Linked DNA regions of Homo sapiens. The protein of the gene in region 2 purifies or fractionates together with the protein of the main gene of each other region. This does not show direct contact. Each region holds a gene or a part of one and is shown on either strand. Other genes may lie near its edges.

Evidence for each region. The genes of interacting proteins can lie anywhere in the genome.
Region 1: the proteins of COL9A1 (region 2) and CTPS2 purify together in Homo sapiens (affinity purification with mass spectrometry, with the first as the bait; one large-scale study listed by BioGRID). This does not show direct contact.

The regions. Positions count from the first base shown.
Region 1 is NC_000023.11:16,688,670-16,692,169, forward strand, and holds part of CTPS2 (CTP synthase 2), read right to left. Parts: intron 2,952-3,500; coding exon 2,871-2,951; intron 933-2,870; coding exon 781-932; intron 1-780. UniProt on the Homo sapiens protein: Catalyzes the ATP-dependent amination of UTP to CTP with either L-glutamine or ammonia as the source of nitrogen. Constitutes the rate-limiting enzyme in the synthesis of cytosine nucleotides.
Region 2 is NC_000006.12:70,300,285-70,304,534, forward strand, and holds the start of COL9A1 (collagen alpha-1(IX) chain isoform 1 precursor), read right to left. Parts: upstream 2,801-4,250; 5' UTR 2,641-2,800; coding exon 2,627-2,640; intron 1,791-2,626; coding exon 1,717-1,790; intron 103-1,716; coding exon 25-102; intron 1-24. UniProt on the Homo sapiens protein: Structural component of hyaline cartilage and vitreous of the eye.

The DNA of each region.
Region 1 (3,500 bases), on a different chromosome or scaffold from region 2:
GTTAATGAATGCAGGATGAAACAAAACTAGCATAGCCAAAAGTTCCCATCCAAAATGATTTTCTTTAGGAAAAGTTAGCCAAATCTTAAAAACAAGCAAAACAAAACAAAACAAAAAACCTGTGAAGTTTAAAACTGTTTAAGGCCAGGCATGGTGGCTCATGCCTATAATCCCAGCACTTTGGGAGGCCAAGGTGGGCAGATCACTTGAGCCCAGGAGTTCAAGACCAGTGTGGGTAACATAGAAAAATCCCGTCTCTACAAAAAAAAAAAAATATATATTAGCCGGGTGTGGTGGTGTGTGCCTCTAGTCTCAGCTACTCAGGAGGCTGAAGTGGGAGGATGACTTGAGCCCAGGAGGTGGAGGTTGCAGTGAGCCGAGATCGTGCCACTGCACTCCCGCCTGGGTGACAGAGCAAGACTCTCAAAAAAGAAAAAAGAAAACAAACAAAAAAAAATTTTAAATATTCAGAAACTAAAAAATGAACTAGCAAATAAATCAAATAAATCAGAATCCTTCCAGAGCTAAAAAAACATTCCTTCCAGAATTCGAATTCCTTTAATTCACTTTGGTTTATGTATAACAAAATCAAAGGCTCCAGAAATCTTCAAATAATACAGCAAAGCACCGCAACAGTATGCTCCATCTTTAGACATATCCAGACCAAAATGTGCACACGCAAAATGCCAAATACACACGCTTACCCTTTCAAGTAGGTCTTAGTTCTACCCCCAAACTCAAAAATTATTAAAGATTATACAAGTAATTCCTTTCGCTTACCTGTCAGCCATATTTCTCCACTTAAAAAGCAAATTACTTGCAGAATCACCGATGGGCAGGTGCAATCTCTCCTTAAAATATTTCACAATGCTTTGTTCCTCTAAAAGCACAGGAACTCGGTATGTGGAAGAAACATCATGGATACATATGACCTAAGTGGCGATGAGAAATCACCATACTTAGATGGATCTATTCAAATATGCCACCACAAGAATGAAACAAAATTCAGCAGAGACTGGCAGTTTATTTACACTGATATAACACACACACACGCACACACAAAAACCCAGCAACCAAAGCTAGCATCAGAATTTGCACAAGGTTAGCTTCATTTAATTAGAAAACTAATCCCAGCACTATGGGAGGCCGAGGCGGGCAGATCACCTGATGTCAGGAGTTCGAGACCAGCCTGACCAACATGGTGAAACCCCACCTGTATTAAAAATGCAAAAATTAGCTGGGCATGGTGACATGTGCCTATAATCCCAGCAACTCAAGAGGCTGACGCAGGAGAATCGCTGGAACCCAGGAGGCGGAGGTTGCAGTGAGTCGAGATCGCACCATTGCATACCAGCCTGGGTGACAGAGCAAGACTGTATCTCAAAAAAAAAAAAGAAGTGTACACAAAACGATTGGACAGGTCAGGTGTGGTGGCTCACGCCTGTAATTCCAGCACTTTTGGAGGCTGAGGCAGGCGGATCATCTGAGGTCAGGAGTTCAAGACCAGCCTGGCCAACATGGTGAAACCCCATCTCTACTAAAAATACAAAAATTAGCCAGGCATGGTGACACACACCTATAATCCCAGCTACTCAGGAGGCTGAGGCAGGAGAATCGCTTGAACCCAGGAGGCAGAGGTTGCACTGAGCCAAGAGTGCACCACTGCATTCCAGCCTGGGTGACAATAGTGAAACTCTGTCTCAAAAAAAAAAAAAGATTGGACGCAAACAAAATGGCATGACAACATATCAACATACAGATGCAGAAGTGTCCCTTCAATCTGCCATCACATTTTTCAAAGTAGTTCAGACTTCGGCAATGACTCTGAGGCATCAGGCAGGGGGCTCTCCATCAGACTATTTTCCAAGATGCCAAAATTCAATTTGATCATTTTTAGACTTCAGAGAACCCAGAGTTATAATCTGAAGAAAAGATTTCTGCCAAACCTCACCCTTTTCCTGAGCACCATTTATATCACTCTCTTTAAACTATAGGTAACTCCAATCCCTTATAACCAAGCCTTATTGGAATCAAGAGACAGAGATGAGAGAAGGAAAGAAAAAAGAAAAGCGAATTATCAGAATACCAAGGTGGAAAGCCCTACAGAGCAGAGAACCTAAGCCCAAATCACAGTACAGTTTCTGTACCAATGAAGTCAACTGAGCCCACTGATGGAGTCAGAAGAGCTAGTGCGAATGTCAACGTGCTCGTGTGTTTGGGGTGACTTAAGCTGCCACAGGTAGAGAGGAGAAATGAGTGAAAGCAGTAAGTGTTCCAGAAGGAAACACAAGATAAAGAGATGATAAGTAGGCTTCATGTGGTTCTCTCTCTAGAGGTTTGACTGTGAGTTAAACACCCACCCTGGTACTGGGCACGATGGCTCACGCCTGTAATCCCAGCACTATGGGAGGCTGAGGCGGGCGGATCATCTGAGGTCAGGAGTTCGAGACCAGCCTGGCCAACATGGCAAAACCCCATCTCTACTAAAAATACAAAAAAATTAGCCAGGCGTGGTGGCGCATGCCTATAATCTCAGCTGCTCAGGAGGCTAAAATAAGAGAATTGCTTGAACCCAGGAGGCAGAGGTTGCGGTGAGCTGAGATCATGCCACTGCACTCCAGCCTGGGTGACAGAGTGACACTCTGTCTCAAGAAAAGAAAGCCCACCCTGGTTTTGTGACATAAGTTGAGTGATCATGCAAAGAAACATGCATCCTATCTCACTTAAGGGCTAGGGAATCATGGTTGGATCAGGGTTCCCCAGTGCTTGCATAAATGCCGTGAAAAGTAATATGATCATTGAAGAGGTACAAAACACTGGCATCAGCAGAAGTGCCTGCCAGACAATAAAATCTAAAGAGCAGCACCAACCTGTTCAGGGTTCACGTGACAAAACATAGAAATCTTCTCCTTCACGGCCATCTCAATGGGCGTTGAACTTCGGCAGACAATCTGTCAAAGCCAGTTATGCTTCAGCAAACAGGATTCACTTTCAGCAGGATGCCACATTCATTTCTTTTTACAAGAAACTTGGCCAAGTATGTACTTGTTCACTTTGGACATTCCACTGGACTATTAGAAATTGGTCTGAGCACTAATATAAGTATAATCAAATTCAGCATAAGTGTATCAGTAAGAACTCGAAACATCGAGACGTCTCTGGTGAACAGAGTCCAGGCTCACAAGTGTTGCTTCATTAACTACAAGAAAAGAGCTAGATCGGGGTTAACAAACTTTTTCTCAAAAGGGCCAGATGGGAAATATTTTAGGTTTGCAGGTGACACAGTCACTGTCCTGATCCTCAATTGAGGTGCAGTGTGAAAGCAGCTACAGACAATATGTAAATGAATGGGTGTGACTGCATGCCAATAAAACTTTACTTACAAAAACAGGCAAGCAAGTTGTGGGCTGTTATTTGTCAACCTCTGACAGAGACTACTGGTGATGACTGGATCACCTGCTATAAGGACACATCACTGTTTAGACTAAAAATAAGAGCAG
Region 2 (4,250 bases):
TCAATAGGGTACATTGCTACTCACCTGGTAAGTCATCTTGGCCAATCCTGATCTTTGGACAGAGTTCATTTCCACCATTAGAATTGGAATTGACAGGGAATCCTGCAAAAGAGATAGCATGTCATTCTACTTCATCCACTCTAACTTAAAGTATAATAATAATAAAATAAAATAAAATAATAATAATAATAATAAAATTTAGAACCAGAAAATAGCAATTGACCACAAAAAAAAGATTTCAGGATGTATCAATAATAATAAATATTTAAAATTCAATATTATACCAGCTTGCTTAGAGGTAAAGTGTTTGGCTTTACCTCCATGCCTCTACGATTATAATCTGTCCACCTGCAACTCATCCTGGAAGGGGTGGATGCAAGGCACAAAGTTGCTCTAATAATCTGGCTGGGAAAATGTTCGTTTTGAAGAGGTTAGGCATTTGTTCCTTTTGAAACCAAAGCTGAATGGTGTCCTGAATGGCACAGGGTCAGAAATCTGTTTGGAAAATTCCTGGTGGTTTGGGCTAGAAAATGTTCCTTAAACACCACAAATTTTAGGATTCCAGTGAGATTCCAGAGCCAACCTTGGTCCAGTTCAGTGGGGCTTCTGGAGAGTAGAGTTCTTAGGAATCTTTGTCAGATATAGGGGCCTGGGGAAGTCTTGAGATTCACTAATCCTAAATAAAATATAGAGGATGGATTTGATTTCATAAATTCGTTCTAAGAGATCAAATAAAAGTCCCGACTAGATTAATCCTAACATCTTAGAACTGGGAAGAGTAAAAAGAAGAAGAAAATAATCATGAGAAGGATTAAATCCTCAATTTGATAAGAAATCATAGAATGGAATTGTGTTCTCCTTACACAAATGGAAGGTCAAAGGGAAGAGAGATTTTTCACCACCACAGAAGGCTTCTTGGAAATATCCAACCTCAGTGCCTTGCTAAGATTCATCTGACAACAGAGACTCTCTAGACTTCAAAAAAAGTATTATTCAGTTACAAAGCATAGGCCCGGCGCTGTGGCTCACGCCTGTAATCCCAGCACTTTGGGAGGCTGAGGCAGGTAGATCACCTGAGGTCAGGTGTTCAAGACCAGCCTGACCAACATGGTGAAAGCCCGTCTCTACTAAAAATATAAAAAATTAGCCAGGCATGCTGGCACATGCCTGTAGTCCCAGCTACTTCGGAGGCTGAGGCAGAAGAATCACTTGAACCTGGGAGGCGGAGGTTGCAGTGAGCCGAGATTGTGTCATTGCATTCCAGCCTAGGTGACAGAGTGAGACTTCATCTCAAAAAAATAAAAATATAAATATAAAAAAGCATGGGCCTAACCATAATGGTACATCAAACATGCTCTTTATACTCTCCTCACCCCAAATTGTTGAGGTCCATCCATCCATCAGTCTATTTATTCATTCATCCATGTATTCACCCAACATTTACCAATCACCATCTGTACTAGGCACTGCACTAGGCACTGCAGCTCACAGATTGGCCTTCCTACCAACTGTGATTACTGACAGGACTTACTTTCCATACCCAGCATTGACCATGGAAAACCAGAACCTAATGTATCCCTGTGCCCCAAAGCTGGATTGAAGAGTGAGGGTGTGAAGGACTATGAATGCCTCACTCAGTCTTCAGTCAGCCACAGCCCTGCCTGATCATTTCTGGGAATAAGTGATCTTTGAAAGTCTAGAAACTATGGCCCTTACTGGGGCGACGCTTGACAGCTGCAGATGCCCAGGGTTCCAGGAAACTGCACACAAAGAAGAAAACTGGAATTTTCCTGAAGAAGAGAGAAGAAAAATGACTGAAACAGGAGTCCCCGCAGATGGAAAACACTTCCATATTTTCAAACCTAGTAAACCTAATTAATGTAAGGTGATCAAATCACAGTATAGTTTTTTTTTCATTTCTTTTTTTTTTTTTTTTTTTTTTTGAGACGGAGTCTCGCTCTGTCACCCAGGCTGGAGTGCAATGGCGCGATCTCGGCTCTTTGCAACCTCCACCTCCTGGGTTCAAACGATTCTCCTGCCTCAGCCTCCTGAGTAACTGGGATTACAGGCACGTGCCACCACACCCAGTTACTTTTTCTATTTTTAGTGGAGACAGGGTTTCACCATGGTGGTCAGTCTGGTCTTGAACTCCTGACCTCGTGATTCGCCCGCCTCGGCCTCCCAAAGTGCTGGGATTACAAGCATAAGCCACCGCACCCAGCCTTCATTTTTACTTTGAAACCCTACTGAGAGATGTAAGGAACTCATGTTTCCAGACCCCACTGTCGTTGTTGTTTTATTGATCTCACCTTCTCGGTATCTACCTATCTCACTGTTTTGGTACCTATTTCTTTGTCTCTGGTTTCTTTCACCTTTGATTTCCTTCCTCTCTTTTTCTGTGGCCGTCACTTTCTCTCCCTTCCTCTGTCTGTCTTCGGTTTTTTGTGTCTGTCTTCGGTTTCTCACGCTTGCCCTCTTGTCTTACTCTCTCATCCGTCTCTCTTTCTGTCTCTCACCTTGAGGCTCACCTACTCTCATCTTACCACTGCTGCAAAAATACAGACCCTTGGTTCTGAGGACCCCCAGCTCCATCTCCCCACCACTCTTTCCAGGGTTATTGTCTTACCAGCAGGTCTTCATTTTCCCAGTTGATTTTCTTTGTTTGCCAACAGTCCCTATGAAGAAGGGGTTGGAAGGGAGTCACTGTCCCCTCACGACCCCTTCACTGTTACCCTAGGACTATGTGTTCTGGGCCCAGCCTTGGTCCCTCCTGCCCCCGGTGAGGGCTAAAAGCAAAGGGAGAGAACCAGAGGCATCTCGTGACACTTTAAACTGAAGCAAAGGAAAGGGGTGGGGAGAAGCAGCGCTCTGAGCCCAGGCCTAGGGGTGTGTCCTCAAAGCTAACAAGGTTATACTGAAGGAGGGATTTACAGGGGAAAGTTTGCTGAAAAGAAAAAAATAAAATCAGGATGTGGGGAAATTCACCAGAAAGATCCAGGCAAGGTGCTATAGGAACACAGTAGATGCTTTTAGATCTGCTATAGGAGTACAATGGCAGCTTTCAGAACTGCTATAGGAATACAGTGGAAGCTTTCAGAGGGCTGAGGTTCCAGTAAAAATGTGCCCACTGGGAGGCAGAGGTGTGGAAACTCGTGGGAGCCTTGGTGCCCGATCAACCTAAGTTTCAATCCCTGTTTATTCTGAAGCTTACTAGCTGTGTGTCCTTGAGAGAGTTACTTCACCTTTCTGTAACTAGATGCCCTAACTGTAAAACAGATTGAAAATGCTTACATTAAAACAATGGTTTTGAGAATTAAATGAGGTATCAAAGGCAGAGGGTCTAACACCCAACAATCATTATTTGTCATCGTCTTCATAGCTAACGCTTCATTATGCACCTCCGTCTGTTGAAAATGCTCAAAGCTTAATGCCATTTAATTCTCACAACAACATTATAAGGTAAGACTGAAGTTACCCTTATTCTCCAAATAAGAAAGTTGAGGAAGCAGAAAATGAAGTAACTTTTTCAAAGTGCCATGCCTATTACTAAATACACATTCCCTCTCTCTACCTCATGGATAGAAATCCTGATAAAATGTAACATCAAGCCCCCTACTTGTTGTTTATTCTTAAACTCTGAGACTACCAGAGTTGAGCAGAGGACACTGTATCTGGAAAGAAGCAACATATTATCCTCCGTTAACAAGGTGAGAGCAAATTACAAGGAGCACAAACCTAGAGAGAGGCATGTTATCAGCATCGCTACCACACATGCCATGCCGTCTCTCCAGAACCTGAGCACCTAAAGAGAATTCCCTATAGCCCCCACATCACCCCCGTTACCACCCACTCAGCATGGCCAACCTCTGGCCTTGTCTTGAGGGACACGGGTGGTTACTCCAAAAACCAAGACTCTAAAGGTCAGAAGATCCAATGATCTCAAAAATCACAGTACAAGCAAAGTAATTTTTAGGTGAACTTTTTTTTTTTAAGAGACAGGGTCTCAGGTCTCGCTCTGTCCCCCAAGCTGGAGTACAGTGGCATAATCATAGCTCACTACAGCCTTGAACTTCTGGGCTCAGGGGATTCTCCCACCTCAGCCTCCTGAGTAACTGGGATGATAGTCATGCACCACTGCACCTGGCTTCTTGAAATTTTTAAATTTCGTTTTCTAATTGATTTAATTTTTATTTAATTACAAAACAATAGCGTTGCTTCTTATTTTTCATTTGTTTATTTCTTTTCCAAAA